Linked DNA regions of Homo sapiens. The protein of the gene in region 2 purifies or fractionates together with the protein of the main gene of each other region. This does not show direct contact. Each region holds a gene or a part of one and is shown on either strand. Other genes may lie near its edges.

Region 1 (3,594 bases), on a different chromosome or scaffold from region 2:
ATGTACTCAACGTTGTACTCATCTTGAAAGAGGTAGTTGAGCTATATTCTGAAACATGGGTAGGATTTGAACAATCAGAGGCCTTGAAGAAGAATCAGTATGATATAGAAATAGGCATAGAGTGGGGTAGAACGTGGTTTTTGGTGAAGAAATTCTTTTTGGCTGGAGCAGGAAATATATAATAGCCAATAAGACTGGAAAATAAAATGCTGGGGTCAGCTTCTGGCAGTGTAGGAGCTTGGATCAAGCTATAGTAAGCTGTGGAAGATTTGTGAATAATGATACTGGAGTCATGTTTCCTTCTTTTTTTTTTTTTTTTTTTTTTGATAGAGTCTCAATTCTGTCACCCAGGCTGGAGTACAGCGATGCTATCTCTGCTCACTGCAACCTCCGCCTCCTAGGTTCAAGCGGTCCTCCTGCCTCAGCCTCTCGAGTAGCTGGGATTACAGGTGTGTGGCACCACACCCAGCTAATTTTTGTATTTTTAGTAAAGACGGGATTTCACCATGTTGGCCAGGCTGTTCTCGAACTGCTGACCTCAGGTGATCCACCCACCTCGGCCTCCCAAAGTGCTGGGATTACAGGCGGGAGCAACTGCAGAGTCATGTTTTTTAGAAAGATACCAGTATTCATTACATTATTAACTTTAACAGTATTTAGGTAAGTCACATAGCTTTTGGGGCCTTTTGAAGATTTAAATTCTTCTTTTCTTCTCTAAGAATATTCTTTGAAACCCATGTCAGAAATACAGATTCTTTTTTTTATTTGAGAAAATTGGATATGAGAAAATGCCTTAAATAAATTAGAGGCTGATTCTTCTTATATTTACTTCTAGCCTCTTTTAAACAGGAGCTTTCTTTTTTATTTTATAATATGACTAACTTTATCTTCAGCTTAATAAATATCCTTGATGGTATTAAATGTTTTTGAATGAGAACTATAGAAGTATTTCTTGCCATCTCAGGTTTATGGTACAAATTGGAAAGAAAATTATAGATATTTGAGGTTTCCTTGAAGCTCCAAAAGTCTATAATTCAGATTGTTTTCTGTACCTTACTTTGGTTTATTTAACTAGCTCATCAAATCAATCTTTAAAATTAGTTTTAAAGTGAGTTTTAGCTAGTGTCTCAAGTTGTTTTTAGAAAGAAGCTGTAAGGATTGTTACTAGGTAGTTTCTGCACTTAGATACATAATAATTACTGATAATGATTTATTTACCTAAAATAGTTCTTTGGGAAATAAATAGTTCTTCAGGAATGGGTTGGTTCCTGCTCCTTAAATTGGCTATCTGTCTTTATTGTTATGTTTTTGTTGTTTTTTTTACAAGGTCTCACACTGTTGCCCAGGCTGAGTACAGTGACACAATCATGGCTCGCTGCAGCCCCAACCTTCCAGGCTCAAGCAATCCTTCCACCTCAGCCTCCTGAGTAGCTGGGACTACAGGTGCACACCACCATACCTGGCTAATTTTTAAAAATTTTTGTAGAGATGGTTCTCACCATATTGCCCAGGCTGGTCTTGAACTCCTAGACTCAAGTGATCTTCCTGCCTTGACCTTCCAGAGTGTGGGGATTATATGGAGCCATTACACCTGGTCTATTGCTATGATTTGACTGTTAGATTTACTCAGGAGAATATTTGTGGTAATTTTTTGGAAGATCGTAACTTGAACCATGATTCAATTGAGCTAATACTGTTTCTTTTGTCTTTGAATAGTTGGAACTGATAATGGGAGAGAAGCAATTGAAAGTGGGGCTGCATTTCTCTTCATGACATTTCACTTGAAGGACTCTGTTGGTCACAAGGAAACAAAGGCTATCAAACAGATGTTTGGCCCCTTTCCTTCATCATCTGCCACTGCAGCTTGTAATGCTACTAATCGAATTATTTCTCATTTTAGTCAAGATGATCTTACTGCTCTTGTGCAGATGACAGAAAAAGAACATGGCGATAGGGTTTTTTTTGGTAAAAATTTAGCATTTTCATTTGACATGCATGATTTGGACCACTTTGACGAACTGCCAATAAATGGTGAAACTCAGAAAACTATAAGCCTAGATTATAAGAAGTTTCTGAATGAACATCTCCAGGAGGCTTGCACCCCAGAACTCAAGCCTGTGGAAAAAACAAATGGCTCCTTTTTGTGGTGTGAAGTTGAAAAGTACCTAAATTCAACTTTGAAGGAAATGACTGAAGTGCCAAGAGTAGAAGATCTTTGCTGTACTTTATATGATATGCTTGCTTCTATTAAAAGTGGTGATGAACTTCAGGATGAGGTATAGTTGAAATGATTTATTTTTTTATATTAATGTGAACTATCCTAATGAAATAGTGTTTTTTAAACATGGGTGGTTAGCAAAGAAAGTTCTTTAATGTTCTGTATAGTAGTTGAATCTATAGCCAAATGGTTTCACATAGCAGGCCTGTATATACGTTCCTAATGGATAGTTACAGGAGGTCTGAAAGTGTAATGAGTGTAGCAGAGGAGTAAGCAGACAATAGTTGGGTGTCCACATGCTCTGGTTACTGGGACAGTGCTGGTTTGATGTCAACTTAATTTTAATACTGGACAAATTGAATGAGTAATATATTTCATGAAAGATTAAGAGGGATGGCCTACTGTTGTAGAAAGGACAGGCTTTGAAATCAGTTTGTTCTTCCCTTTCCACTTACTGGTTGTGACACTTTAGGTAACTTAATCTCTCAGAAGCTCAGTTTTCTTGTTGGGCTATCTCAAGGAGACACCAATATCAAGATAGATAATTGTTATAAGGATTGAATGTGATATATGCAAAATGGTAAGTAACATGTTAAATAATCATTATGTGGTAGCTGTGATTATTTTTGTCGTTATTATTGGAATTAAGAATTTTTAAATCACATTGAGTATTGGAAATACAGAAAAAATACTAGCTGTATTTTTCAGAGAAAAATTAATTTAGAGAATTAGCTAAGTAGGTATTGGAGGACTTAACCCATAGGTGTTATGCCAACTAACATTAGTTTGGAAGTAAGATATTATATCATTAATTCTGTGATCAGTCTTTTTACTGTGAATGTTTTACACTTGGTTTAATTTTTATCAGATCTGTTCTCACTATTAAATTTTCTCTAACATTCTGAACATAATATTGTTTTAAAAATTGTGATTTACGAAGAAAATTTTACTAATATTTGCTCATCATAATTGAATACATAGTAGTTATCCAATTATGATTATAATAAACTGAAATTTATAAATATCTAATTAATGGATATTTTATTTTCTTAGTAAGCCATAAAACCATTACTTTCACTTCTGAATATCTATAGTAAGTTTGTATTTCTTAGTCTTTCACCACAATTTTAAAGTATGTAACTGAATCTGATTGTTGGAAGGGGAGTATTTGTGCTAGATTTTTTTCATAATAGCTTCATTTGTCATATATTTATTGTATGCTTATTGTATTGCTAGGTACAGTGCTATTTACTGAACATAAAAGGATGAATAAGATAGCAAACTTGTTCTCAGAATTAATTGTCTAGCAGGAGGAGACATGTCAACAAGTAACTGTACTGAAATATCATAGGTATTATAATACTACATGCAAAGAA
Region 2 (4,184 bases):
TAGGAGGAAATTGGTTTCTTTATGAACTCTCCTTCCAGCCACAATAATCTCAGATTGACTCCACTCTCAAGATCCCGTGCTAAGCTTTGTGTTTGGATGAAAACCCAAAACATATTGTAAAATTTAATATTGCGTTTTCATATGCTTAAACCTAATTTACCTTTTAGAAAAAAAATTTGCATATTTCTTCCTTCTTAAGGGCCCACACACAATGTGGAAAATGCTTGGAGGCAGGATGGTGTGATAGGTTCTCTGGAGGTTTCTGAGAGGGGCATTGAAGTCGACTTTTGTTTCTCTTTTTTTCTTCTCCCTAAGCTTTAGTAATATGAAACCTGGCAGGGATGTCTTAAGCCAGCTCTGCACGGAAGGTGGACCTAAATTGCCTCTAAGCTGATGAGCTGACCCTCCCCTCCACTAACCCTCCACCTCCACCTTTTCATTTCTGAGATGAAACTTTGAAAATTATTATTATTATTATTATTATTATTATTATTATTATTATTATTTGCAGGAAGCTGTGTCTGCAGACTATGAACAGAGGAATCGTCTCCACTGCTCACTGACCCTAACCCATTGGGTCTCTGGCTAAAGCAGAAGAGTCCCACACCTGAGGGGAGGGTGTTCGCTCTGAACACACAGCTTCAAGGATGTTCTGCTCTAATGGAAAGGCTCTAGACTGTAGCTAAGACTTTCACTCGTCCAGATATTTACAGTTTGAAGGACTTCCCTCCTGATATTTTTGGCAATAAAGGAGAAAATCATTTCTCCTCAGAGCATTTGAAATTGGAAAAATAAACGTGCTGTGTGCAGCTGAATCTTCTAAGCCTTTGACATTTTTCAGTGGCAGGATGGAGGGTCCGTATGGACAGTCAGACTTGAGCGCTTGAACACTTACAGTCTTTGCGTCTGCAAAACCTGGATAATCACTCCATATACCACCTGCCGGGAACTAATTTTCTTGTCATTTCATAAAAAAAGATTCCCAGTCTTCTAGACAAGTTGCAAGGACTGACTAACGCGGGGGAATGCTTGCATATCAGCAGACCAGAGGTGGTGTAGACGCCAAGCGTGGACCGAGTCCCGGGGCGCCCCAGAAGTGTCTTCTCCCCGAGCGACAGAGTTAATGCCTCGCATTAACAGCTATGAGTCCCTCTTGGGTTTCTCCCACTCCCAACACCCTTCTCTGAGCCCCTGGCCACCGTCGCCTTCTCCTCTCGCGCCCCACTGACCAAACATCCCTTTCATCAGGTGGGGTTGGGGTGTCTAGTTTTCGGGAAGGATCGCGCAAGGGTTAATGATGAAAGCTGGCGACCAGGTGGGGCGCCCACACCCGCCCCCGGCCACGGTGGGCGTCGGAGGTGAGGGGGCGCTATTCGGGCAGCAGTGCTCCGGGTGGCGCGCGGGAGAGCTGCCAGGCTGACGGAGAGGCCGGCCCGAGTGGGGGCCGCTCCGCCGCCGCCGCCGCCGCCGCCGCTGTGATGCGGAGCCGGTGCTGCGCCGGGCGGTGGAGTCAGAGCCCGGGCGCGGGAGCAGGAGCTGCAAGATCAGCACCAGCGGCTCCGGCACCTGCACCAGCTCCCGGGCCCCGCGCTGCGCTCTCCGCCCCGCCGCACTCGGGGCCGTCGCCCCGCGCTCTCTATGGATGTCAAGGCGGCCCCCAACGGGGTGGCCACTATCGAGGACCGGATCCTGCGGATCACCGGCTACTATGGCTATTATCCAGGTTACTCCAGCCAGAAAAGTAAGACGCCGCGCGGCTGCCCTGCGCGAGGCGGGGAAGGGAGGTGGGCGCGCAGGGGTGCCGCGGGGATGCGGACGGGCGGGCGCGCGGTACGGACACCTGCAGCCCTGCGGACGCTGTCAACACCGCCTTCCTGGCGGCGGGGACCCCCCGGGGAGAAAAGTATGTCCGCTGTCCTCGGTGCTGAACCGTGAGAGGGCAAGGGGCCCGGCTGGGTGCGCCCAGGAGTTTGGAAACAGTCGTAGCCTTGGGGGGAGGTGCGGAGGGGACCTGGTGAGCGCTCCTGACCGCCGTTGGCCGGCTCACCCTGGTGGATTTACGCCCGGAGGAGGCTAACATGGCTGTTCACTTAGCGGAAAGTCAGCCCTAGGGGATACATGCCCCGAAAGCCCCTACTGCGTGCGGGGCGCTGGGGACGCAGGCTGGGGAGGCTCGGGGGTGGGGCTGGCGGGGGCGGCCGACCCAGACGTGGGTCCCGGCGCTGGTGGGGTCAGCTCGTTCACTCCGGGCTGTTGAGACGCTGCCAGCGCGGGAGTTACTCCGGTTACAGTATCTTTAGGAGGTTCTTCACCCTGGGAAGAGAAAAGAACCTGCTCAGGTCTCCGAGCCCCAGAGCTTGGAGCCAGAGACCCGTGCAAAAGACTGGGGGCGTGGGGGGGGGGGGTCTGAGAAGGGGAGGCGACAGGGCCACCCGCCCCCGCCGCACGTCGCGGTCACCGCTTTCTTCCAGCTAAGCGAGGTCATGCGGCGTGGATGCTTTCACGTTTTTGGACCAGTTTTGGTGGGAGGGCGATGAGGTGTGCTCTGCTCGCAGTCCCCCTCCCCCAGTACACAAACCCACTAGCTATATTTGCTGGGATTAGTTCTACTGGCGACTGAAGTGCAGCTCATTTTTCTTCGAATTGGAGGAGTAGCTGCGGTTTAGTTTCTATGCAGGTGGGCTTTCGCTTTTTTCTTTATCAATGCATTTCTGTTGCAACAGATGAAGCTTAATTGATGTTTTTGCCGTTATTGTTGTCAGAAGCTTGGAAGCTCCTAGATGCATTTCTGATACGTATTTTTCTATGACATTTGGGGTGCAATCAACATTACAGTTTCTGTGATGCGTGGGACCCACAAAAATTCCGGCACAAAGACAAGAAAACACTATTTTTTCATGTAACTTTCTCCCCTACCATGCTTCCTCTCTATTGAATAATAATTCAAGAGCTTTGTTCCATGGGCTGTTCTCACACAGATATTTTCTAGTTCGATATTTCATCTGGTTTCAGGAAAGGCCTATCTGATTTGGATGGTTTCTGTCTAGCTGTTTTTAGCATTAGGGGCTTAAATTATTCATTTTCCATACAAAAGTAATTATATAGTGTTAGAATTTTCTGGAAAGAAAATAACACACTGTGGAATGCCCTTTGAAGTACTATACACTCAAAAACTTCTCCTTTTTTATTGGCAAAGGATTTCTTTTTTAACCCTGGAAACATAAGTAAAGGAACTAATATATCTTGTGGAAATTACTTGACTTTCACCTTTGAATATTTTAATTAGGAACCATGGGATTTTAGTGGCTTAGAGAATGTAGAAGCTGTGTGTGAAATTACAAGACTCAGGGTGGTTTATTATTGTAATTTTTATGACAATGGAACTTTGGCTAACAATGAACAACCCAAAAAGAATACTGAAAAAGTGACATTTTAGATAAGAACATGTTCATATTATATTTTTGTACTTGCTCAAATAGCTGCACATGCTTCATTTGCAACACAATAACAGGACAAAAAAAGGGAAGAGCACTGGCCAAGGCTATAACTGGTAGCCAAAAGGGATAAAGATTAACTTGGCATGGTTATTTGTGATGGGCACTTACCTACCTAAGTTCAGACCGTAGAGTTAAAAGAGTGAAGGCAGAGAATCTCACAAGAAGAGAGAATTAAGTGATAGTCAGATAAATCTCAGGATGCTCATGCTTTCGGAAGTAGAGAAAGATTGCTATTTTGCACAGTGAGAGATTGAGAGAGGAGAAAGCTGGAGGAGGGCCAGGGAACCGAGCACCATGAAATAATCCTGTCCTAATGCAGGCTTCAACTAGTAAACAAACACACTGAAGCAAACCAGTACAATATGGTCAATTGATTTGGCTGTTACAGGGAATGAGCAACAGCTTAGGGGAAGTCTGGAAAAATATACTTAAGAAAAGGCTACAGTGATGAATATATAATATGTGAAAGCAAGGTGACTTTCTCATTTCCTGTCTGATCACATATGAAGGACAATCTCTAGATATCTATGCCATTTACCTTTTTGGAGATAGACGGGGACTTACCTCTAAGAAAATGCACTGAAGATCAAGCCTTCTGTTAATGCATCCTGCTGTTTGCTTGTACCTTGTTCAGAAAAAATTCTAGTAGTCAGGCTGATGCAAAAAAAGAAACATGATAGAATTCAG

What was found. Proteins that work in one complex are often made in the same cells at the same time.
Region 1: the proteins of SLC35F4 (region 2) and ASCC3 purify together in Homo sapiens (affinity purification with mass spectrometry; one large-scale study listed by BioGRID and IntAct). This does not show direct contact.

What each region holds. Positions count from the first base shown.
Region 1 is NC_000006.12:100,846,830-100,850,423, reverse strand, and holds part of ASCC3 (activating signal cointegrator 1 complex subunit 3), read left to right. Parts: intron 1-1,716; coding exon 1,717-2,276; intron 2,277-3,594. UniProt on the Homo sapiens protein: ATPase involved both in DNA repair and rescue of stalled ribosomes. 3'-5' DNA helicase involved in repair of alkylated DNA: promotes DNA unwinding to generate single-stranded substrate needed for ALKBH3, enabling ALKBH3 to process alkylated N3-methylcytosine (3mC) within double-stranded regions.
Region 2 is NC_000014.9:57,863,280-57,867,463, reverse strand, and holds the start of SLC35F4 (solute carrier family 35 member F4), read left to right. Parts: upstream 1-1,371; 5' UTR 1,372-1,638; coding exon 1,639-1,741; intron 1,742-1,786; exon of another isoform or gene 1,787-1,809; coding exon of another isoform or gene 1,810-1,903; intron 1,904-2,464; exon of another isoform or gene 2,465-2,677; intron 2,678-4,184. UniProt on the Homo sapiens protein: Putative solute transporter.